Homo sapiens: one gene and its partner. The protein of the gene in region 1 interacts with the protein of each later gene in a pairwise test. Each region holds a gene or a part of one and is shown on either strand. Other genes may lie near its edges. The genes, in order: SEC23B and HOXA3.

Region 1 (11,897 bases):
CTTCAAGTGCCGGAAATCTGGCCACTGGACCAAGGAATGCCCGCAGCCCGGGATTCTTCCTAAGCCGTGTCCCATCTGTGCGGGACCCCACTGAAAATCGGACTGTTCAACTCACCAAGCAGCCACTCCCAGAGCCCCTGGAACTCTGGCCCAAGGCTCTCTGACTCCTTCCCAGATCTTCTCAGCTTAGTGGCTGAAGACGGACGCTGCCTGATCGCCTCAGAAGCCACCTAGACCATCACGGACGCCGAGCTTTGGGTAACTCTTACAGTGGAGAGTAAGTCCGTCGCCTTCTTAATCAGTACAGAGGCTACCCACTCCACATTACCTTCTTTTCAAGGGCCTGTTTCCCTTGCCTCCATAACCGTTGTGGGTATTGACGGCCAGGCTGCTAAACCTCTTAAAACTCCCCAACTCTGGTGCCAACTTGGACAACATTCTTTAATGCACTCCTTTTTAGTTATCCTCACCTGCCCGGCTCCCTTATTAGGTCGAGACATTTTAACTAAATTATCTGCTTCCCTGACTATTCCCAGGCTACAGCCACACCTCACTCCCGCTCTTTTCCCCAGTTCAAAGCCTCCTTCGCATCCTCCTCTTGTACCCCCCAACCTTAACCCACAAGTATGGGATACCTCCACTCTCTCTGGCAACCGATCACACGCCCATTACTATCCCATTAAAACCTAATCACTCTTACCCCGCTCAATGCCAATATCCCATCCCACGGCATGCTTTAAATGGATTAAAGCCTGTTATCACTCGCTTGTTATAGCATGGCCTTTTAAAGCCTATAAACTCTCCTTACAATCCCATTTTACTTGTCCAAAAACTGGACAAGCCTTATAGGTTAGTTCAGGATCTGTGCCTTATCAACCAAATTGTTTTGCCTATCCACCCCTTGGTGCCAAACCCATATACTCTCCTATCCTCAATACCTCCCTCCACAACTCATTATTCTGTTCTGGATCTCAAACATGCTTTCTTTACTATTCCTTTGCACCCTTCATCCCAGCCTCTCTTTGCTTTCACTTGGACTGACCCTGACACCCATCAGGCTCAGCAAATTACCTGGGCTCTACTGCCGCAAGGCTTCGCGGACAGCCCCCATTACTTCAGTCAAGCTCAAATTTCTTCCTCATCTATTACCTATCTCGGCATAATTCTTCATGAAAACACCCGTGCTCTCCCTGCTGACCATGTCTGACTAATCTCCCAAACCCCAATCTCTTCTACAAAACAACAACTCCTTTCCTTCCTAGGCATGGTTAGGTACTTCTGCCTTTGGATACCTAGTTTTACCATCCTGACTAAACCATTATATTAATTCACAAAAGCAAACCTAGCTGACCCCACAGATCCTAAATCCTTTCCCCACTCCTCTTTCCGTTCCTTGAAGTCAGCTTTAGAGACTGCCCCCACACTAGTCTCCCTAACTCATCCCAACCCTTTTCATTACACACAGCCTAAGTGCAGAGCTGTACAGTCGGAATTCTTACACAAGGAACGGGACCGCGCACTGTAGCCTTTTTGTCCAAACAACTTGACCTTACTGTTTTAGGCTGGCCATCATGTCTCCGTGCGGCAGCTGCTGCCGCCCTAATACTTTTAGAGACCCTCAAAATCACAAACTATGCTCAACTCACTCTCTACAGTTCTCATAACTTTGAAAATCTATTTTCTTCCTCACACCTGACACATATACTTTCTGCTCCCCGGCTCCTTCAGCTGTACTCACTCTTTGTTGAGTCTCCCACAGTTACCATTGTTCCTGGCCCGCACTTCAATCCGGCCTCCCACATTATTCCTGATACCACACCTGACCCACATGACTGTATCTCTCTGATCCACCTGACATTCACTCCATTTCCTCATATTTCCTTCTTTCCTATTCCTCACCCTGATCACACCTGGTTTATTGATGGCAGTTCCACCAGGCCTAATCGCCACACACCAGCAAAGGCAGGCTATGCCATAGTATCTTCCACATCTATCATTGAGGCTACCACTCTGCCCGGCTCCACTACCTCTCAGCAAGCTGAACTCATTGCCTTAACTTGAGCCCTCACTCTTGCAAAGGAATTACGTGTCAATAATTATACTGACTCTAAATATGCCTTCCATATCCTGCACCACCATGCTGTTATATAGGCAGAAAATCACTACACAAGGGTCCTCCATCATTAATGTCTCTTTAATAAAAACTCTTCTAAAGGCTGCTTTACTTCCAAAGGAAGCAGGAGTCATACACTGCAAGGGCCACCAAAAGGCATCAGATCCCATCACCCAGGGCAACGCTTCTGCTGATAAGGTAGCTAAAGAAGCAGCTAGCATTCCAACTTCTGTCCCTCATGGCCAGTTTTTCTCCTTCTCATTGGTCACTCCTGTTTACTCTCCCACTGAAGTTTCCACCTATCAATCCCTCTCCACTCAAGGCAGATGGTTCTTAGACAAAAAAAAAAAAAAAAAAAAAAACCTCCTTCCAGCCTCACAGGCCCATTCTATTCTGTTGTCATTTCATAATCTCTTCCATGTAGGTTACAAGCCATTAGCCTGCCTCTTAAAACCTCTCATTTCCTTTCCATCGTGGAAATCTATCCTCAAGGAAATCACTTCTCAGTGTTCCATCTGCTATTCTACTACTCCTCAGGGATTGTTGAGGCCCCCTCCCTTCCTTACACATCAAGCTCAGGGATTTGCCCCTGCTCGGGACTGGCAAATTGACTTTACTCACATGCCCTGAGTCAGGAAACTAAAATACCTCTTGGTCTAGGTAGACACTTTCACTGGATGGGTAGAGGCCTTTCCCACAGGGTCTGAGAAGGCCACTGCAGTCATTTTTTCCCTTTTGTCAGACATAATTCCTTGGTTTGGCCTTCCCACCTCTATACAGTCCGATAACGGACCAGCCTTTATTAGTCAAATCACCCAAACAGTTTTTCAGGCTCTTGGTATTCAGTGAAAACTTCATACCCCTTACCATCCTCAATCTTCAGGAACGGTAGGACAAACTAATGGTCTTTTAAAAACACACCTCACCAAGCTCAGCCTCCAACTTAACAAAAAGGACTCTGTCAAGAATAGAGCCCAAAAACTCACCAACCAAACAAGTAATTACACTGAACTCCCTTGGACACTCTCTAATTGGATGTCCTGGGTCCTCCCAATTCTTAGTCCTCTAATACCTGTTTTTCTCCTTCTCTTATTTGGACCTTGTGTCTTTCATTTAGTTTCTCAATTCATAGAAAACCACATCCAGGCCATCACCAATAATTCTATACGACAAATGCTCCTTCTAACAACCCCACAACATCACCCCTTACGCCAAAATCTTTCTTCAGTTGAATCTCTCCCACTGTAGGTTCCCACGCTGCCCCTAATCCCGCTAGAAGCAGTCCTGAGAAACATCGCCCATTAATCTCTCCATATCACCCCCAAAATTTTTTCACTGCTCCAACACTTCACTATTTTGTTTTGCTTTTCTTATTAATATAACAACACAGGAATGTCAGGCCTCTGAACCCAAGCCAAGCCATCATATCCCCTATGACCTGCACGTATACATCCAGATGGCCTGAAGCAACTGAAAATTCACAAAAGAAGTGAAAATAGCCTTAACTGATGACATTCCACCTGTGATTTGTTTCTGCCCCACCCTAACTGATCAATGTACTTTGTAATCTCCCCCACCCTTAAGAAGGGTCTTTGTAATTCTCCCCACCCTTGAGAACGTACTTTGTGAGATCCACCTCCTGCCCACAAAACATTGCTCGTAACTCCACTGCCTATCCCAAAACCTATAAGAACTAATGATAATCCACCACCCTTTGCTGACTCCTTTTTCGGACTCAGCCTGCCTGCACCCAGGTGAAATCAAGAGCCTTGTTGCTCACACAAAGCCTGTTTGGTGGTCTCTTCACACGGACACATGAGATAATTATTTCCGATAAAAATGGAATAAAACTAGAAATCAATAACAGAAGAAAGCAAAAATATCAACATATATATGGAAATTAAACTCACTTTTGAGCATGCTCATGTTCAAGGGTTGTAAGACTTAATATTGTGAAGATGTTCATGCTGCCTAGTGAACTACAGATTCAATGCAATCCCTTTTCAATTAACAATTTTTTTTTTTTAGAAATAGAAAAAGTAACCAACAAATTATACGGAATCTCAAAGGACAATAAAGAGCCTAAAAATGTGGCCGGGTGCGGTGGCTCACGCCTGTAATCCCAGCACTTTCGGAAGCCGAGGTGGGTGGATCACAAGGTCAGGAGAACGAGACCATCCTGGCTAACATGGTGAAACCCCGTCTCTACTAAAAATATTAAAAAAATTAGCCGGGCGTGGTGGCAGGCGCCTGTAATCCCAGCTACTCGGGAGGCTGAGGTAGGAGAATGGCGTGAACCCGAGAGGCAGAGCTTGCAGTGAGCCGAGATCGTGCCACTGCACTCCAGCCTGGGCAACAGAGCAAGACTCCATCTCAGAAGAAAAAAAAAAAAAGAAAAAGAAAAAAAAAAGAGCCCAAAAATGTTTAAAAAAAAGAAACAATGTCACCTTTTCTAATTTCAAAGCACATTACAAAGCTACAGTAATAAAAACAGTTTAGTTCTGGCATAAAGACAGACAAGTTTTCCAATAAAACACAATGTAGCAGAAATGCAAACCTCCAACATATGGGTAAACAGTTATTTGAACAGCTATATTCATTGAAGCATTATTCACAAAGGCCAATATTTGAAAGCAAAACAAACTTTCCTCACTGAATAAATGAATAAATACAATTTGTAAAAAAAAAAAAAAAAAGAATTACTGTGGCTGCTGGGTGAAGAATAATGTATAAATAGGCAATGGTAACATCAGGGAGAACAATTAGAAGATTCAAGTAAGAAGGAGTGGCTGGCCCAGGGCAGCTGGTAGTAGGGAGGGGGAAGTGGGTGGATTCTGGATAAATTTCAAATATAGAGCCAATGGGATTTTCCAGTGAATTAGATATGGAACATGAAAGAGAGAGGTCAAGGATAAGTCTAAGGTTCTGAAGCTAAACAACTAGATGATGGAGTACCATCAACTGAGATGAAGAAGGCTACAGAGAACAGGTTTGGAATTTAATCAGTTCTACCTTTTTAGTAGCCTTCTATAATGTCAGGACTTGAAAACAATGCCAGTAGATGCACACACATCAAACCTAAAGGTTAGGATCCTGCTGCCCTCACAGCTTTAAGTCCCCTGCCCAGGTAAGAGACATGGAAGACAAAGGATTTCAAGAGAAATTCAGTATTTAACATTGCTCATTAAATGCACAACAAAGAAATTACCTGTATCACGTACTCAATTGTAGAAAACTGGGGCATCAATTCGGCAGGTTGATTCACCTCAGATATGCCTCCATAAGCTGGAGGAAACTGAAAAGAAGGAAACAGTTTTATTAGGGTTGGCATAACTATATTACACTTTTTATTTTCCATGTGTAAAAATGATAATGATGCCAAGACGAGAGGAACACTTGAGCTCAGGAGCTCCAGACTAGCTTGGGCAACACTGTGAGACCCTGTCTGTATACAAGAAGTAAAAACATTAGTTGGGCGTGGTGGCTCACACCTGTAGTCCCAGCTACTCAGAAGGCTGAGGTGGGAGGATCACTTGAACCCAGGAGGTTAAGGCTGCAGTGAGCCATGATTGCGCCACTGCACTCCAGCCTGGGAAACAGAGCAAGACTCTGTCTCAAAAAAGAAGAAAAAAAATGGTAATGACCATGTATTTATTCTGAAAGCACAAAATACAGGACACGTTAAAAAACATAAAAATCAGCATTTAAAACTTCTAACCCTGCCTTATATTTATATCATTTCTGTCCTCTTAAAAAATATTTTTTAGAGCAGTTTTAAGCTATTGTAACTTCTAAATGTTTAAAAGCACACTTTATGTTGCCCAGGCTGGTCTTGAACTCCTGGTTTCAAGTGATTTTCTCCCCTCAGTCTCCCAAAGTGCTGGGATTACAGGCATAAGCCACCATGCCTAGCCAAAAACACACAAATGAAAACCATTTCTTAAGTTTTGCCCTGCAAATTAAAGGCTGAGATTTCACCTATCTCATCAATAGTTAATAGTCTAAATAAAGCCAAAGACTTTATTTAGGTTTATTATTTTGGCTATTATCAATAAAGTAATACATACGGAATGTAGAAAAATTGGCAAGTCCAGGAAAATAGAAGCAAACAAAGGAGGAAAAGCCCCCCAAAATCCTATCACCTAGAAGCAGCTACTGTCAACCTCCTGGCAGATTTCCTTCCAGACTTAAGCACAGTTGAGAACATCCCATATATACAATGTGGAACTTGTTTTTTCCAGTCAACATAATGCCACAGGCATTTTCTTTTGTTTTTAAAACTCTCTGCAAATGTTTTAAATTCACAGCTTGTGGGTTGGCTTATAATCCAAATAGTCTTTAGCTTTACATTAAAAATACAAGTTGAGGTGCATCTCCCCAAAGTGAGCAGATGATCACTCCAGGCCAGTGACCTCAGAGTGACCAAATGCAAGTGCTGCTGAGGAGCTGACAGGCAGCTTTAGGGGCCTCTGGTTGGGAGAGAAGGGTACAACTGAGCTTGCGAGCCCCAGCAAGAATCTCAGTCAGAGCCAGCAGAAGACTCTAGCCCCATCCTGGCCATGACTGCCCACTGACTGCAGCTCCCAGCAGGGATAAGCTCGATCTATGACTACAGACACACCAGCCACCTCCCAGCAACCTGGAGAGGCCCTGTTCACCCACGCAGTCAGCCAGCTGCACAGAAGGGAGCAAAGGAGACGGAGATCACCCTGATCCCTCCGTCTTCCAGCTCTACATTCATTTAGAGCTAGAAAACCCCCACACTGTCCAGCTAGGAAGGTTACAAAAGATTATTTCCACTTAGGACACATAGACTTGCAGATCATACTTATAAATTGGCAGGTGACAATCTTAGGTAAGCATAATAATACCAAATACTTATATGGCACTTACCATGTGTCAAGCACTGTTCTAAGTCCTTTATACTCATTAACTCAGTTTAATTCTCACAATAATCTCATGAAGTGACTATAGGTATACTATACTATCATCCTAATTTTAAAGACAAGGAAGTTGAGGCACAGGCAGTTAAGTGACCTACCCAAAGTTACACAGGAAATAAGTGGTAGATCTGAGAGCCAAACCCAGGCAGTCTGGCTACAGATCTCTGGCTCTTTAGCCACTATGCTACCCTGCCTTAGAATTACTATAATAAATTATATTAAACAAAGACATTAATCCTAAATGTAATAGGGAGCAGAAATGCTTTTAAGATTTCTATATACTTCTGAATCTCTCATGAAGATATATTTTAAATGACATCTGCTTATAGTTTCCGAACCTATGGTCAGTCATCAATTGTACACTGTCCTCTTCATCACTAGACTTATATGCTGTATCTGAGAATGAGTAATTGTAATTATGATCAAATATATGAACGAATGCATGTGAAGAGCTTAAGATCTGTTAGAACAGTGTACACTATGCTGGACACAAATTTTTTCTAACAACTTTATTGAGGTATAGTTTACGCAACATAAAATTCACTCATTTTAATTATACAAGTCAATGATTTTTAGAAAACGTACAGTTGTGCAATAATTACCACAATCCACTTTTAGAACATTTCCACTACAGGCACAGTTACTTTTTTTTTTTTTTTGACACTCTTGCTGTGTTGCCAGGCTGAAGTGCAGTGGCGCAATCTCAGCTCACTGCAACCTCCACCTCCCGGGTTCAAGCGATTCTCCTGCTTCAGCCTCCTGAGTAGCTGGGACTACAAGTGCGCACCACCATGTCCAGCTAATTTTTTATTTTATTTTGAGACGGAGTCTTGCTCTGTTGCCAGGCTGGAGTGCAATGGCTCAATCTCGGCTCACTGCAACCTCCGCCTCCCGGGTTCAAGCGATTCACCTGCCTCAGCCTCCTGAGTAGCTAAGACTACAGGTGGCTGCCACCACTCCTGGCTAATTTTTGTATTTTTAGTAGAGAGGGGATTTCACCATGTTGGCCAGGATGGTCTTGATCTCTTGACCTCATGATCTGCCCGCCTCAGCCTCCCAAAGTGCTGAGATTATAGGCGTAAGTCACCGCGCCCGGCCTAATTTTTGTATTTTTAGTAGAGATGGGGTTTCACCATGTTGGCCAGAATGGTCTCGATTTCTTGACCTCATGATCCACCCACCTCGGCCTCCCAAAATGCTGGGATTACAGGCATGAGCCACTAGGCCTGGCCGCACAGTTACTTTTATAGAGAAGTCTCTCTTGTGATTTGTGAGCTCCTTCTAGTTTGGTACTTTTAAAATTTTTAAATCAAAAGAAGCTCAACACTGATACCTGGACTCTAAAAGTTAGAAAGATCAGAAAATGAAAATTCAGTAATATACACTATCCAATCAGAATATACTGAAGTCAAGAGAAATATGAAAAACAGGTGCTTTCTTTGGGTCACAGATTCACTGCCTACAGAAAATGTGTAAGAAAAGGGAATTCAATGAACACCCCCTCCCCAGCCCCAAGCAAATGACAAGGACTCAAGAAAACCACTCAACAGAATAAACCACAAATGTTCAAATTCAATATTGTGCTTAACAAAAGTTATCACCCTGAGTTCAGCAGAAACTGCTCACTGCCAGTGTAAACACAAATTCAACCTAACTTAATTTTTTTCATAATACAACTAAAATAAAACATATAACATTTTTTAAAAATAATTCACATACCTGATTTCTTTGAAAACAGAAATTACAGGCCCAAAGTTTTGCTCGATAATCAACCTGACTGTGAGAAAGATAAATATTATAAGTAGGTACCACTTTTATTTTTAAAATAAAATTTTTATTTTTAAGGTAGAAAGCGTTCATTTGTAAATTTCAAGTTCAGTAAATCACACAAGTAAGTGTTTCTATGTGTATGCATAAGTATGAGTATGCAAAACGTTCACCGCAGTTAGAATTCTGGCTAAGTACACCACAATTTCCATCAAACAGCCACAGTGAAGAAATACTAAATCTTTTTCTCTTTTCCAATTTCCTAATTTTTTAAATGTCATGATTTATATAAATTATACATTATTTCTCTCTTGCCTTTTATCTTAACATACTCTTCATGATTTTTTTCTAACATCTTTATTGTCCGGCTATGTGAAACTACTAAATTCCAACATTAAAAGCATATTTCACACACAGGAAAATGCTTCTAGATTTTTAACCTGACTTAGCCCATTTTAAGAAAAGTTGGGCAAGCACATTTCACTTCCTCAAATTGGTTCAAGATAATGCTTCAGTTACTTTTCCCTTATTTTCTACATTTAGAAAATTAATAACCAGTGGCTATGCATTCACATATGGGCACATTAAATAAAAGCAATGAGAATGAAGTAAAAAATGTTCCCTCATATAAAAATTTTATGACACTCTCTACCTGTTTAAAAATCATTTCAAATAATGCCCACATTTAAAAGAAATAGGTCACTATCTCAGGCACAAAAAAAAAAAAAATTACACTTAACAAATTGTTAACAGTTAAAATTTCTTCTGCCTGCTACTTCTCCTTGCCATATAGCATCACTGTACCCGGGAAGCATGAGAAGACGGTCTAAGCTTTCGAATTCTTCTGGGAAATTACTTTAAGAGGAATCAATAAAGTCTACAGTTAAGCCAAAAGCAAACTGATTATCAGCCAAAAAAAAAGTGAATTACAAATCCTCTCCCTCTACCTCTACCTCATTCCTGTAAGATTCCAATTTTATCTGGAATTATCAGGCCAGGGAGATTTCTACAAATATTCACCACTTACTACTCACCACAAGAATCGTTTAGGAGTCTCATCATCTACTACTTATCACAAATTTGATGACCTGCCCAAATTTAATGACTTTTATGAGCATCACATAAAATTCATAATATATTGTATTTATCATTTTTACCAGTTTCAAAAGAATCCATACCAAAGTGGGTTGAGAACAGCTTTACAAGTTGGCCTGCTGCAAAGCACAGGTTCATATTGTACAGGAGGTAGGTCTGGACGTTCTTTCAAAGGAGTAAGGAGACAAGCCAGGGGTACAACCATTCTTGTAGCCTCCAGCCGGCTGGAAGGCCACACGTTCCAACTAAAACGCACACCATCCCGTTCTTCATTCTGCTGGATGAACTCCAGGTATGTCGCCATAGTCTAAAAGGGAACTGAAGATAAAACTTTAATTACCTTAATGGTATGTGAAATTCTGAACTAAATGTCAAAAAAAGAAGATGGGTCATGTAACACAGTGTTTCTCTTTTTTTCCCATCTCAGCTCACTGCAGCCTCCACCTCCCGGGTTCAAGCGATTCTCCTGCCACAGCCTCCCAAGTAGCTGGGATTACAAGCCTGTGCCACCAAGCCCGGCTAATTTTTTGTATTTTTAGTAGAGGCAGGGTTTCACCATGTTGGCCAGGCTGGTCTCAAACTCCTGACCTCAGGTGATCCACCCGCCTTGGCCTTCCAAAGTGCTGGGATTACAGGCGTGACCCACTGTACCCGGCCCAACTAACACAGTGTTTCTTAAATACTTGGGAAGAACCTGTTGCTGTAGAATGACAGTATTTCTTTTCCATCTGATACCCAAAAGTCAGTTAACCGCACAGTTATCATTGATCACTGCTCCTTTCTCACCTCTCCTTTCAAGCACTTAAAAATAAATCAAAGGAGTGGGAGGTTTACAATCACCTGATCATCTCCAAACTACATGTAGTTAAACACTACTACTTCAAACCTCCTCACAGATCACACGTCCTATCAGTCAAGCCAATTTCAGCCCCTTGCTCAAGGGTAAGTCTTGAACCCTGTTTCGGCATCCAACTATCTTCCTCTCTAATCTCCTTCCTTTCTTCCTCTATTAAATTTTACATTCCAAGTGATTTTTTTTTCAGTAGCGGGGGGGTGCTCATTCCCTTCCGCACTTTGTTAACTTTGGAGAAAAGAGCTGGATACTGATCTTCAAGTTTGGTTCATAATGGGAACCAGTTTTGAGCTAAATTATTTCTACTTGGTATTACCAAAATTACTATTATGCTGAGTCTCACCAGAACCTCTTTCCTCACCACGGTTGCTTATGTTCATGCCTTGACAGGCTGTGGTCAAGGCCAGGTGTGGTGGCTCACACCTATACTCGCAGCACTTTGGGAGGCTGAGATGGGCGGATCACGAGGTCAGGAGTTCAAGACCAGCCTGGCCAACACAGTGAAACTCCGTCTCTACTAAAAATACAAAAATTAGCCAGGTGTGGTGGCACGTGCCCATAGTCCCAGCTACTCAGGAGGTTGAGGCAGGAGAATCGTCTGAACTCGGGAGGCAGAGATTGCAGTGAGGCGAGACAATGCCATTGCACAGCCTGGGCGACAGAGCCAGACTCTGTTTCAAAAAAAAAATGAAGACTGTGGTCAGTAAAACTGTCCTACAGGCTAAACTCTCAAACCCAGATGATCCCAACTTCATTGAGTATTTATACATCCTGTTCATATCCTAAAATCTAGGGTAACACACAACTCAGCTATTGGGGTTCAAGGGAACAAGCCCCTCAAGAAAAGTAGTAAAAAGGCAAATTAAAGAGTCTATCAAATTAAAGTGGCCTCTCGCGCCCACTTCCTGAATATGGATAACAACTGTCTGTTATTTTGGGAAGTACCATACTGTAAATAATTTTGATTAAGGCAATAATATTGCATGGCTAGAAAAGCAAATGAATTACTCTACTACATAAAGCCCAGAACACAAGAATTCCAATGTTTGCTCCAACTGAAACTCTAAGAAATCTGTTTATTTCTGGCAACGGCAAGAACCTGAAGCACTGTGTGCACAGGAAGCAC
Region 2 (12,799 bases), on another chromosome or scaffold:
GCTTCCCTGGGAGTCAACCGTGGCTTTGTATTCAAGCCGCAGATAGAGAGCTCAATTTATGTTAACTGCAAATAAATAGTGAAGTCGCAGATCCGTGGATGCAGAGAGAAAGCTCGATTTGTGTAACTACAAATAAATGAAGTCACAGATCGGTGGCGACTGCGTCTCTCCACTGATCACGGAGGCCTCAGGTAGGTGCAGGCCGCCCAGGGTCTCCCAGGCCTGGGTGGACTGTCCAAAGGCTCCTCCCTTGCCCTTGGCAGGCTGGTGGCTGGGAGTCTGCTTTTCCTCTGGGAAGCCTGGGAGTGGCTTCCCCGCTGCGGACCTTCACCCAGGCAAGACCCCGCACCAACCCAATCTCATTTGTACACGACAGGTACGAGTTTGTCTTTGCACCCAGGCTAGGGATCACTCACTCACTGGATGGGGAACAGATGCAGCTGGTGAGAGAGGCAAGGGTGGAAACCTTTAGGAAGCAATTTGCCTGCCACCCAAATCTCTGGAAGGCGCTGTTCCCTGCCTAGAGCTGGCTTTACCTTCATAATTGAATTTAAATATTGGTATTTGGTAACAAGAAGCAGAGTGAACACGCTCTGCCAGTAGGTAGGAAGGAAGCTCAGGGACGGCAGTGGAAAATGTCTATCTAAACATAGCTCTACTGATTAGAAACCCGCCTACATGTGCCTGCTTCAGGCTGAGGGTCAATGAGTATTTCTGTGAAAATTATCTCACATAACCTAGTGCATTTGTGTCTTTTCAGTCAAATAAGTAGAGAACCAATGAATAGAGAACACACAGTTAAAGAAGCCTTATTGAAAGCCTGATTTTATCCGACCTTTTCGTTTTAAATCAGACCACAGAGGGCAAGAGGGGAGAAGGAAGCCTGGAAACGAAAGGGAGGTTTCGGTGTCCGCAGGACTCGGCCCAGTTGGCTGACTTGGGTCCATAAAGGCCGAAGCCTTGCGGGCAGTATCCGCATCCTCCTTGGCCGGGGCAGAGGGGCAGTGCGTCCTGCCAGAACCTCCTGGACGCGCATCGGGCAAAACCGGAGCAGGAATGAGCCGGTGGCGAGGGCACCCGGCCCTCCCTTGGCGAAGTGCGTTCCTTCCCGCGATCCCCGAAATCGCTCCCTGCTCGGGCTGTTGGACTGGGCAGGTTCTACTTTAAACACCAGCTCTGTTGGCCCCTTCAGTCGCTTGAGTCTAGACAGACGGCGGCGGCGGGGGCCTTGGTCTTTTCTCTTTGCGTCTTGCTGTGTGTCACCCCAGGAAAAATTTATTGGTCTAAAACGGTCTAATTCTGCCTCTTTGATCTCCTAGCCTTCTTGTTTGCTTCATCTTCCTTTAACTTTCTTGGGTTTTTATTTCCTTCCAGAAGGCGATGCGACTGGGATTATTTAGGTCTTTTCTTTTTGTCTTACTCCCTCTATTCTCCATCGGAGACAAGGTATCATCTGATCCGCCATAAAGGCGTCCCCGGATGTTGTCCCTCACTCCACACCCCTACCCCCAGGCTTCCGTGGCCCGGGAGGAGACAGCCCAGCGCCCACCTGCCCCACCAGCCCCCGCCTTCCTACCCAAGCCCCGGTGGTTCACTGCGCAGGAACTGGGGCTCCGTGGCGTCCCGATCTGAACCCTCCCTCCACCTTTTGTATTCCTGGGGCCCCCTGAGAGGGTGCGGTAAACGGGGACGGCCTGGACCCTCTGAAAGTGATGGGAAGTGCTCAGTACACAAGGAACTAAACTCTACAATTTACAGGAGAATTTCCGGGGCAATTCCATTGTGAGGTCGGGTTTATGGTGTGTAATCGAGCTGAGCAGTAAAAGGTGGCCGGGCTTCCAGCGCAGCCGGGCAGTTTATGAGGCGTTTAGGGGAAGGGTTCTCCCCACCATCCTCCACCGAGCGGTGGGCGGCAGGGGCTTCAGCTGGTGCAACATGGTGCAGGGGTCGGAGGCCTGGAAGGTAGGAATTGGAGGCCTGGATGGGAGGAAGTGAGACCACTGTGCGCTCAGCTCCATGTGAGCTGGTACTTGGATAGGTGAAGCCTCCACAGCTGGGTGGCCTTTAGGGGGTGGTTTCCCCTATTTGTTTTCGGTGTCTTCAAAAGAAAAGGAAGTCCACAGTGGGTTGCAGTCCCTAGACGCCAGAGCCCCCTCTCCAAATCCGCTCTAAAGCATGTATTGTTCCCAGGCACCCCGGCCTACCCCAGAAACCTTCCAGTATTGGGAGTGCCTGGAAGGGTGCAGGCCCGAGATTTTTCCAAGCTGGGGGAAACAGCCCTGGCTCCCCATGCGCCAGAGGGGAACCAGAAGTTGTGGAAAGGACAAAGGAATCTTTAGCAATTTATCGGACTGCTGGAGCCAGCCAGGTGCCCAGGAGCGAAGGCACAGAGCCTGCAGCACTACAGCGTCCGGGAGGAGGGAGGGGAACCCCACGTTAATAAATCTGTTGGCAAATGAGTCTCATTAATAGATAAATATTTCACTGCTTCCTTTAGGGCGGATAAACAGTGTGCCTCCGATTAAGGAAAGGAAGCTGGGAGACGTTGACTTTATTCGAACCACATGGCTCCAGTTTGCGGTGGCAATCTCTCTGCAGCTGCAAGAGATGCTGCGCCTTCCCCGTCTGGATCCGAGTCTAAGTCCGGCCTGTCGCCCACTGGACCTGGGTGAGAGAAGACTTGGGCAGAGTCGATCTGCTCATAGCTGAGTCCTGCCCACAAGGCCACCGCGGGGCAGGCTGTTGCGGGGGACAGAGACCCTTCCAGGGTCTGGGCAGGCGGACAGGAGAGGGATGGGGAGGATCCCAAGCTTGGTCCAGGGCTCACTAGCAGGAGTCGGCGGGGGGGCGGGGTGGGGGGTGCTGCGTGGGGCCGGGCCGCCTGGCGTCCGCAGACCCCAGTGCGGAGGTTGGCCGCCAGCTGGGCGCTCCCGCGGAGCCTCCAGGTCTTTTTCCGCGGGACGCGCCAGGCCCGCCGGGCGCGGGCGGATTCTTTGGCCGCATATTTGAGCCTCTTGCCCTTCCATTCTAGGCGGCTGCGGGCCCTGCGGAGCGAGACCACCTGTGAGGACTGCTGAGATTGGCGGAGGCGGTCATGTGGGCGGTCACGTGCTGCGGCGAGCTCCGTCCAAAAGAAAATGGGGTTTGGTGTAAATCTGGGGGTGTAATGTTATCATATATCACTCTACCTCGTAAAACCGACACTGAAAGCTGCCGGACAACAAATCACAGGTCAAAATTATGAGTTCTTCGTATTATGTGAACGCGCTTTTTAGCAAATATACGGCGGGGGCTTCTCTGTTCCAAAATGCCGAGCCGACTTCTTGCTCCTTTGCTCCCAACTCACAGAGAAGCGGCTACGGGGCGGGCGCCGGCGCCTTCGCCTCGACCGTTCCGGGCTTATACAATGTCAACAGCCCCCTTTATCAGAGCCCCTTTGCGTCCGGCTACGGCCTGGGCGCCGACGCCTACGGCAACCTGCCCTGCGCCTCCTACGACCAAAACATCCCCGGGCTCTGCAGTGACCTCGCCAAAGGCGCCTGCGACAAGACGGACGAGGGCGCGCTGCATGGCGCGGCTGAGGCCAATTTCCGCATCTACCCCTGGATGCGGTCTTCAGGTAGGCGCAGTCGCTAGGCGGGCCAGGCTGGCGGAGCGGGACCGGGAGCGGGGAGCGCAGCGCTGGGGAGCGCGGAGCGCGGGGCGCGGGGCCGGAAGAGCGGAGCCAGGCTGTTGCGAGCCGGTAGCCCCGTGACTCCCGGCGCAGCCTTTCTGGTTTTAATTGGAGCGGAGGCGCCATTGCGTGGAGCCCATAGCATTGTATGTAAATGAGGCTCATAAAACTTTTTATGGCCCAATTAATGGGTTCGATCCTCGTAAATTTATTTAACTCCATTTGTCTTGGAATTTTAACATTAAGTTTGTTCGCTATTCTGTCTCTCTTTCTCCCTCCTCTGTCACCCTCCCTCCCTTTCTTCTTCTCTCTCTCCTCATTTTCCTTGCTGCCTGACATTTCTTTCTCAAAAGCTAGGAGAGCCAAGCCCTCCAGGGCCTCTCACCCGACCCTGTGCCAGGGTCCATTTCAAGATGGGGGCGAGGGAATGAGGACAGAGGGTCGGGGTGCCCTAGGAAGGTCCTGGGGATGAGGGCTCAGGCTGCTGGGAAGAGTCGCCCACTTGCCTAGCAAGGCAGGGGAATGGCCGGGCTCATCTTTGAATGGCAAAAGTGCAGCGTTTCCCACTTGCTCACACTCTATATTTACAGTTTTCCTTTGTCAGAGGAAGCAGGACATTGTGGAAGCTTAGCCGGCTGGAAAGGTCGGTTGTAAAGTTGAGATTCTGTGCCTTTGCTCATTACAGAGCTGCCTGCGCGTCTGGCACTGCAGTTGGGGTCTTTCCCTAACACTCCCCCTCCTCCCCTAGCTCAGTTCGGGGCCTGGGGCAGAGGGGGATGCTCGCTGGGGACTAGGCCAGGAGGAAGGTGCGGGCTCTGGGACAGCAGCCTAACGAGTGCCCTGTCTACTTGTCTGTCCTTGTGTTCATGTGTCTGCATGTCTGTTCTCAGGACCTGACAGGAAGCGGGGCCGCCAGACCTACACGCGCTACCAGACGCTGGAGCTGGAGAAGGAGTTCCACTTCAACCGCTACCTGACGCGGCGCCGCCGCATTGAAATCGCCCACGCGCTCTGCCTCACCGAGCGCCAGATTAAGATCTGGTTCCAGAACCGCCGCATGAAGTGGAAGAAAGAGCATAAGGACGAAGGTCCGACTGCCGCCGCAGCTCCCGAGGGCGCCGTGCCCTCTGCCGCCGCCACTGCTGCCGCGGACAAGGCCGACGAGGAGGACGATGATGAAGAAGAGGAAGACGAGGAGGAATGAGGGGCCGATCCGGGGCCCTCTCTGCACCGGACAGTCGGAAAAGCGTCTTTAAGAGACTCACTGGTTTTACTTACAAAAATGGGAAAAATAAAAGAAAATGTAAAAAACAAAAACAAAAACAAAAAAGCAACCCAGTCCCCAACCTGCACTCTACCCACCCCCATCACCTACTCCAGCTCCCAACTTTTGTGGACTGAGCGGCCGCAGAGACTGGGTCGCCTTGGATTCCCTCTGCCTCCGAGGACCCCAAAAGACACCCCCAACCCCAGGCCAGCCGGCCCTGCTCTGGCGCGTCCAAAATACTACCTAGCACAGGCCTCTGCTCGAGGCACCCCCAAACTACCTATGTATCCAGCCCCAGAGGGCCTCCATTCCCAGGAAGTCCCTATGTATCCCAACACTGGCAGACACCCAGCACCACCCTCCCAGACCCGCAAGAAAGTGAATCTCACTACTACCTACTCCCCTAAAACTACCTATTTTGTGCTGGCTGGCTTGCCTGCTACCTAGTGCCGACTGCTCCCAGGCAAGTCCCCTGCTGCTTACAGCCCGCAGCTTTTGGGGTCCCTGAGGCTGCCCTGAGAATGTGCTGAGGTCCAGGATCAGGGTATTGGCATCTATTTAAATCGAAAAATAATATATTTATTCCAAAAAGCATCCTAAGTGCTTGCACCCTAGAATCAATCCCTCCTTCTCTGGCTTGGCACCCACAGCTCAGGCCCATCAACCCCCACTTCTGGAGGGGAATGTTCCTGAGCTGGCTGCAGATCTGTGGGTTAGCTTCTGCTTAGCAGGACTGTGGAGATGCTTCCAGCTTCGCTGTCCTTTCCTCTGGCTCCTGTATCTTACTGTTCAGCTGTGTTAAATATGTACGCCCTGATGTTTCCTATAATAGCAGATACTGTATATTTGAACAAGATTTTTTTTTATCATTTCTATAGTCTTGGAGTTCATTTGTAAGGCAGTGTCTTGACTTGGAAAGGATGTGTTAATGGGGTGACTTTGTAGCATGGTATGTTGTCTTGAGTTAACTGTAGTGGGTGGGGAGGTCCAATGCCCTCCGCAATGCCCTTCATCTCCTGTGTTGTCCTGTACCCTGCTCAGCTCCATCCTGGGGTTCAGGGAAGGCACACTTCCCAGCCCAGCTGTGTTTTATGTAACCGAAAATAAAGATGCGTGGTGACAAAGAAAAATGTGGACTGCCTTATCCAGAGGGGACTGGGAAAGGGGAGGTGAGTATGGCTGGAGGGCAGGGGGCAGTGGGGAAGCAAAAGTGGGGTGGCTGTCCTTGTGATGGTCCAAGTGTTGGGTACCCATGTATTGGTGTCATGTATCTTTTTAATGTATTTTTATGTGTGTATTTGTATGAGTATGTGCTTATTTTTCTGTGTATGTATTTCTGTGTGTGTGTTTTTACCTAATTCCACAATTGTATATATTTTGGTGTCCATAATTGGGTGCATGTGTTTTTGTGTGTCCATAATTGCATGTCATTCTGTGCCCACAATAGAGTGTATGCCCTTCCCTGTGTGCATAATTGTATATGTGCCTTTATCCGTGTAGAGACGTTTGTCTGGTTTTTGCGTGTGCACTAACATCTTCTAGATCCCTTGAAAACGGAATCTTTGGTAGATACGTTATATTCTATGAATCTACCTAAAAACCTCCATCAATTCCATGAGGAAATTTCAAATCCACACTTTCCTCTAAGGCTGAGCAGTGGGCTTGGAAAGGGGCATTACCCAGAGCTGATTCCGGATTCGCATGCGCCCTGAACCCAGCCCCAGGCTAGGAAATGGGATTTAAGGTCCCCACCCCGCCTGCAGACCAGGCGAGGGGGCCCCAGGGTCCGGCACTGCAGTAGGTGGCGCGGGGAGGGGCTAGGACCGCAGACCCCCGCTAGGCTACGCAGCCTGGGCAGGGGCTGGGGCAGCTGGATGCGGGGAAGGGGCGAGGGGTGAAGGTCCAGGGGTTGTGCGGGCAGCTCAGAGCATCCTGAGTTCCGCCTGCAAGACCTCGTCTCCAGTCTCCTGCCTGGGCTGGGCCCGCTTCTTATGGCTCTTTTAGTAAAACCTGGCCCAAAAGGGTCTGTAAAACCTGAGGCCCCAAGTCGGGGCGGCCTCGGTGGTAAGATGGCGCCGGTGTAAGAGCTGCCTCCTCTCAGTGATGGGGAAAGGGTCATAAATCCGTTGTTGTTTATGAAAATTTACAACTTTGCAATACAACTTTATGAGTTGTTCGGCCCTTCCATTGGCCGCTGTCGGTCATGTGGATGAGAACCGTGAACATGAACTTTTTTATAATTTCCCTTGCGAGAATAGAGCCGCATTCTTTTGCTCCGCTCCGTCCTGCCTGCTTCGGAGCTCTGCCTTCCAGCCGGGCTCGGCTGTGCTTTGTCCGGAGATGGCGAGCGAAGGGAAGCCCCGGCCAGGCCAGGCCTGGCGGCTCCCGCTGGAGATTGGGCGCGCTCCGTTCCCGGCGCCGCGGCAGCAGCTTTGCAACTCGCAACCTGGCTAATTTCCTGCGTCCTCTGGCACCAGGAAAGAGGACAATTCTTCTCTCGGGCTGCCCAAGCGACAGCTGTCAGAGGGGCAGGAGCTTCTGGGAGCCACCGTCTGAAGGTGAGACATGTGGGGAGGAGATAGGAGCAAAGGTGGTGAGGCGACAGCCGGCGGCGGTAGCGGTGGGAGAGGGCACCCAGGGAGGCTTTAAGAGGGGCATACTCCCCCTTACCCATACTCACCCATTCACACTTGCCCCCATCACACACTACAGCCCACACACGTCACACACACAGGCACACACGCGCGCACGCACACACACACACACACCACTCCCTTTCTCTCCCCTCCCTGGCTCGCCTTGGCAGTAAGTGCCCGCCTTCCTTCGGCCCTCCGTGGCACAGCGCCAAGGCACAGGGCAGCATCCCTTGGGTCGTCTCTCTCCCCTTCCCTAGCGACCCCGTGAAGCCCAAAAGGAAGTGGCCCGGCACACTGTGTTCCCCGCCAGCCCTTTGGGTTTGGATTTTTGTGTTTTCATTCATGGCCCTATTTGGTTTTGTTGGATTCCCCAACAAGAGGAGACCATCCTTGACCTGGGAAGGTGGGAAGAGGTGAGGGCAAAGTGCATTAATCCACAGGCATTTTATTAGCATCAGCACAGCACTTTCTACTCCGTGGGAATTGGTTTCAGAGAGAAAGGTAGAAGGGGGAAACAGAAAAACTTACTAATTCAGCCAGAGTTCTCCGCTCGTTGCCGGCTTCCCTTCGCCCGGTTTTTCGATGAGAGAGGTGTCTGAAGCGCTGGGAGGGGGAATAGGTGCGTGGGTGGAATTCTGTGTTGGAGGAGAGGATGGGATTAATTGGGTGTTACTTGGTGGGAAGTTTCGGTGCAGAGGACATAATGCTGTTAGCGCGCGTGGCAGGGTCCCGCAGCTAAGGTTGAAGGAAGGACGCAAACCGAGTCTGGGCGATAGGGGGACCCCCCAATCCACCTTGGCGCAACGGACTGGCGACCGCACTCCCCACCTTCCGCGAGCGGGGAGAGGATGGTGGAGCTGCCCGGGAGGAAGCGCAGAGCGTGCTGCTGGCGGTGGCTTTGCGTAGCGCGGTGGCTCGAACTGTAGCTCGGCCTAAGTGCACATCAGACCAGATTTGCCCCGAGAACTCCTCGGACAGCGACAAGAAAAGAGTCCGAGGTTCTTTTTGTTTGTTTTTTGTTTGGGTTGTTGTTTCCCCAACTTGAGACAATATCTTGGTATGGATTCGATAAATAGGAAGGGGCTGTGGATGTTTAGGACGTTAGCCCGTGCTCTGCGTGCGCTCGGGGCGGATAAAGCGGCGCATTTGCATCCTAGGTCCGCCGCCTTCCTGACTGCGGCTGCCGCGGGCCGATTATTTATTGCGACCGTGCTGGCGCTCGCTGCTGCCACGCCGTGGCCGTCGCCGGGACCGGCGCCAGCTGCAGCCCGCCTCTTGCAGCCTGGCGCGACTGCTGTACTGGCCCCTCAGAGATTTCCCAGCAAGCAGGGTAGAGGGGGACGCAAGGGGACCTGGGGGGCGATCACCCAGAGCCTATATGGCCGGGAAATCTCCCCGCCTCGGCTACCCCTGACCGGAGCTGGACGCCGTTATAGACTCGGGTCCTCCCCCACCCCCACTCCAGCACCATGGAGACTGGTTGCACAGGCCGCCTGGCACGTCATGGCTGCTTCTGTCCAAACTGCGCGTCCCAAGGCGTTCTGGGGGCGCACGCTGGTTCAGGGAACACTCTGGCTTTGGGATTCTGCAATCGGAGAGACTACCTGTAGTCCTGAGGCCTGTAGGCCTGGCTGCTCTGAGGAGGATTGGCTATGGCAAAGAAGGACGGCTTTGGCTCCAGGAGAGGGCTGTGAAGGGCAGAGGCCGCACCTGTGTGCTTTGGGCTCTGGTCTGGGCTAGCGAGCTGGCTGGACCGAGGTGGCCTTCAAGGTCCCACACCTACATACTCCCAGACCACCCTCCAGGCTGGCAGAGGTGGAGCTGTTCAATGGGCAGCCCAGGGCAAGGGCAGACAGTGGGGCCCAGCTCGCCGTCCTGCCCCCCTTGGAGAGAAACTGAAAGGTAAGTCGCTTTCTGCGTGGCTTTGGCAGGGAGGAGAGAGAGCCCTGGGGTGGCCATTCTCACCATCGCAGGAGAGGCCCTTTGGAGGGTCTGGGGTGCCTATTCTTGCCGGAATAGCCCTCTCTCTCTAGAGAGAGAGAGAGAGAGAGAATATCTGGTTGGAGAAATGATATGCACTAGCCTTGGCTAACATGTAAAGATTCCAATGTAATATATGTTTTTCCATCTTAGTGCCTATAGAAGCTAGAAATATAATGTTTTCTGGTTCTTAGCTGAGAAATCAAATTCTCTTGTTAGCTGGAACAATAATTAGATCGAGAATCCTGGTCAAGGCATGACAAATAATAATAATAGTAAATTGACACTGACCCACCACTATGTGGGACATGGCGGAATGAAAAGGAAATCATAAATGTAAACATTGATTGTCATCTCCAAACGGTTGTTTTCATTTTAAATAATAACTTGCTTAAAATCACTGTTGTCTGATAATTTTGTTTAAGAAAAAAATAACACAAACATGTTTTTCTTCAAACAGCTATTTTTAAAAGTCCCTTTTAATTTTTTGACTCGAGTTTTCATTTTCACCTATTGAATTCTTTCCCTGAAGTAATGTGTGGGAAATGCCCAATTCTATCCTCTCATTCGAGGCCCTGCTTTATATGCAAAGTAAACCCTTTCCAGGACGGATCGACTGGGGAACAGGCATCCGGCTTCCAGGGGTAGCCCCCGTTGCCGGGCTAGCAGCCGCCTTCCAGGAGTGCCTCTTGGGCTCTTCGGAGGTCGACCTTAGGCCAGTCCTTTCCCAATTTTTTCCCTTTGTGGGAGGAGAGTTCAGGAAAAAAATTGAAAAGCAAGGAAGAGACTAAGTCATTACTAGATTCCTACTGGAACACTGCCAATTGCCACCTCCCCACTAAGTCCTGAACCGGGTGAGCCTGCATTGGCCAGGGTTTTACAGATCTTGTAAACAGTCTCCAGAAATCCATCCAAATCACGTAAATAGTCTTTCTTCAACCTCCACAGAATTGAGGATTTTAAAGCTAATTCAAGGGGTTTTACAAGCCCAACAAACACAGTTGTAAAAATGCCATTGGGCTGCTATCACATTTTACAAAACGAGATTGATCCATGTGTTGTAAAAGTCAACTATCTCGAAGGCACACCTCTCAGGCAAGAGTGAGCAGCTCAGGACAGGCTTTTAATGTCCTGTCTGGGGACCGCCAGGCCTGGGACAGCAGTGAAAGCAATTCAGGATTTCTGGAGCCGGTGAGACTATTCCCGGTTCCGGAGCGACTGAGGGGCGGCAGCCCTCCCTGCGGTCCCAGGAAGGGCAGTAAAGAGGGCGGCCCCAGGACAGTGCCGGTTGTCGGGCGCCCCGGAAACCGAGCCCATCAATTATCCCGCGGCCTTGGGCCCTGCAGAGCTGCCCTCTGTGCCCAGCTTGGCCAGGGCCTCTGCGTCTTCTGTGCCTCTGGAATGTGGACAGAGAGATTCCACATCTGGATTTTTATCTGCCTCAGCTCTGAGCGGTTCTCGCAGTGGATGCTGAGTCCCCAGGCGCTAGGCAGGGGAGCAGGTCCCTCGGCTGTCTTAGGAGCCCAGTCTCACGGCCACTGCTCTGTCGGTCCTTTCTTGTTGAAACCAGTGGTTTCTGGCCTTTCAATTCCCTGGGTTCAAAGGTGGGATGGGGACGCCCAGCTGGAAGGAGTGCTTTGACACCAGGCAGGCGCGGGCCATTGAGCCCCTTGGGACTCAAACAGGATGTGTATGTGGGAGGAGGGAATGGGTGGGAAGAACCTACGTTTGGCTGAGTCCTGGTCAGCTCGAGGTGATCCTTCAGCTCTGGGCTGCAAGGCCCAGGCCCCTGGTGCTAGCGGAGAAGGAGAGAATGAGGGAGTTCACCGATTCCTAAGGCGCACGAGTGAAGAGCATAGAGTGAAGGCCTGGTTTCTCATGGCCCTTGCTCCAGCTCAAGAACTCGCACCCACGAATAGGGGAGCGCTAGGGGAGGGGCAACTCTGGGCCGTGCCTGGAGTGCAGGCCGGCAGGGAGCAAAGCCACCTTTGTCACTGCCCCTCCTGGAGCAGGACCTTCAGGTTTCCTGTTTGGAGGAGGAGGGGCGGGGAACCCGCAAAATTCAATAAAGCAAAAAGGGGAGGAGGAAGGAGGGGACCTGGCGGGGCCTTTGAGGCGGCCCAAGCATTAGTGTCCCTACTCTGGCCTGATCTGCTCGCCACTGAAAGGGCCGTGCCCGCCGCTGGCGTTCGGGAAGAGAGCCGGGCCGGCTAGCTGTGCGCGCCCATTAATCTGCCGGGCGGGCGGCGGGCGGGCGGGCTGGGGGCTGTTTGTAACTTTGCTGCCTCGGTCGCCGCGGTCCCCGGGGAGCGGGCTCCGGCGTTCGCTCCCATTGGCCGCCGCCGCGTCAGCTGGTGCGATTTGCTGCTGTCGCTTTTGGCGTTCGGCCATCCAGAAACAAACCAGTTCGATGACTACTAATAGTTATAGCCAGATGTACTAATACACAACAAATCACAGTCCTGCAGAGGGGCGCGCAAATGAGTTCCTATTTTGTGAATCCCACTTTCCCCGGGAGCCTTCCCAGCGGCCAGGACTCCTTCTTGGGCCAGCTGCCCCTCTACCAGGCTGGCTATGACGCGCTGAGGCCCTTCCCGGCCTCGTACGGGGCGTCGAGTCTCCCGGACAAGACGTACACCTCACCTTGTTTCTACCAACAGTCCAACTCGGTCCTGGCCTGCAACCGGGCGTCCTACGAGTACGGGGCCTCGTGTTTCTATTCTGATAAGGACCTCAGTGGCGCCTCGCCCTCGGGCAGTGGCAAGCAGAGGGGCCCCGGGGACTACCTGCACTTTTCTCCCGAGCAGCAGTACAAACCCGACAGCAGCAGCGGGCAGGGCAAAGCACTCCATGACGAAGGCGCCGACCGGAAGTACACGAGCCCGGTTTACCCTTGGATGCAGCGGATGAACTCCTGCGCGGGTAAGACATATCCCAAGACAGTGGAGGGAGAGGGGAAAGGAGGCAGGAAAAGAAAGAAAGAAGGAGGAAACAGAGTAGAAAGAGGAATAGAGAGAAAGAAAGGATGAAAGAACCAGCAAAGTTTCTTTGGCTTCTTAAAAGAGAAGAAAAAATCAGTTCCCAATGGGGCTATCAGGCCATGGCAGAGGAAGGGCAAGGCCCCAGTGTCCATGTAAGCTGACACCTTAGGGGAGGATGGGGGCACTGGCACGTATATGAGACCTGTGACAGGGACAGCCTGAAGAGAGAGAGAGGCTGGTGGGGAGGGACAGCCTGTCCATG

The links.
Region 2: the proteins of SEC23B (region 1) and HOXA3 interact in binary tests that used the Homo sapiens proteins (3 or more experiments, as listed by UniProt).

Annotation. Positions count from the first base shown.
Region 1 is NC_000020.11:18,509,161-18,521,057, reverse strand, and holds part of SEC23B (protein transport protein Sec23B), read right to left. Parts: intron 10,237-11,897; 5' UTR 10,223-10,236; coding exon 10,002-10,222; intron 8,834-10,001; coding exon 8,776-8,833; intron 5,409-8,775; coding exon 5,322-5,408; intron 1-5,321. UniProt on the Homo sapiens protein: Component of the coat protein complex II (COPII) which promotes the formation of transport vesicles from the endoplasmic reticulum (ER).
Region 2 is NC_000007.14:27,146,987-27,159,785, reverse strand, and holds the start of HOXA3 (homeobox protein Hox-A3), read left to right. Parts: upstream 1-7,202; 5' UTR 7,203-7,498; intron 7,499-8,104; exon of another isoform or gene 8,105-8,211; intron 8,212-8,835; exon of another isoform or gene 8,836-9,478; intron 9,479-12,011; exon of another isoform or gene 12,012-12,036; coding exon of another isoform or gene 12,037-12,478; exon of another isoform or gene 12,479-12,623; intron 12,624-12,799. Other genes in the region: HOXA7 (homeobox protein Hox-A7), read left to right, coding at 3,241-3,619, 4,564-4,877; HOXA6 (homeobox protein Hox-A6), read left to right, coding at 12,037-12,478. UniProt on the Homo sapiens protein: Sequence-specific transcription factor which is part of a developmental regulatory system that provides cells with specific positional identities on the anterior-posterior axis.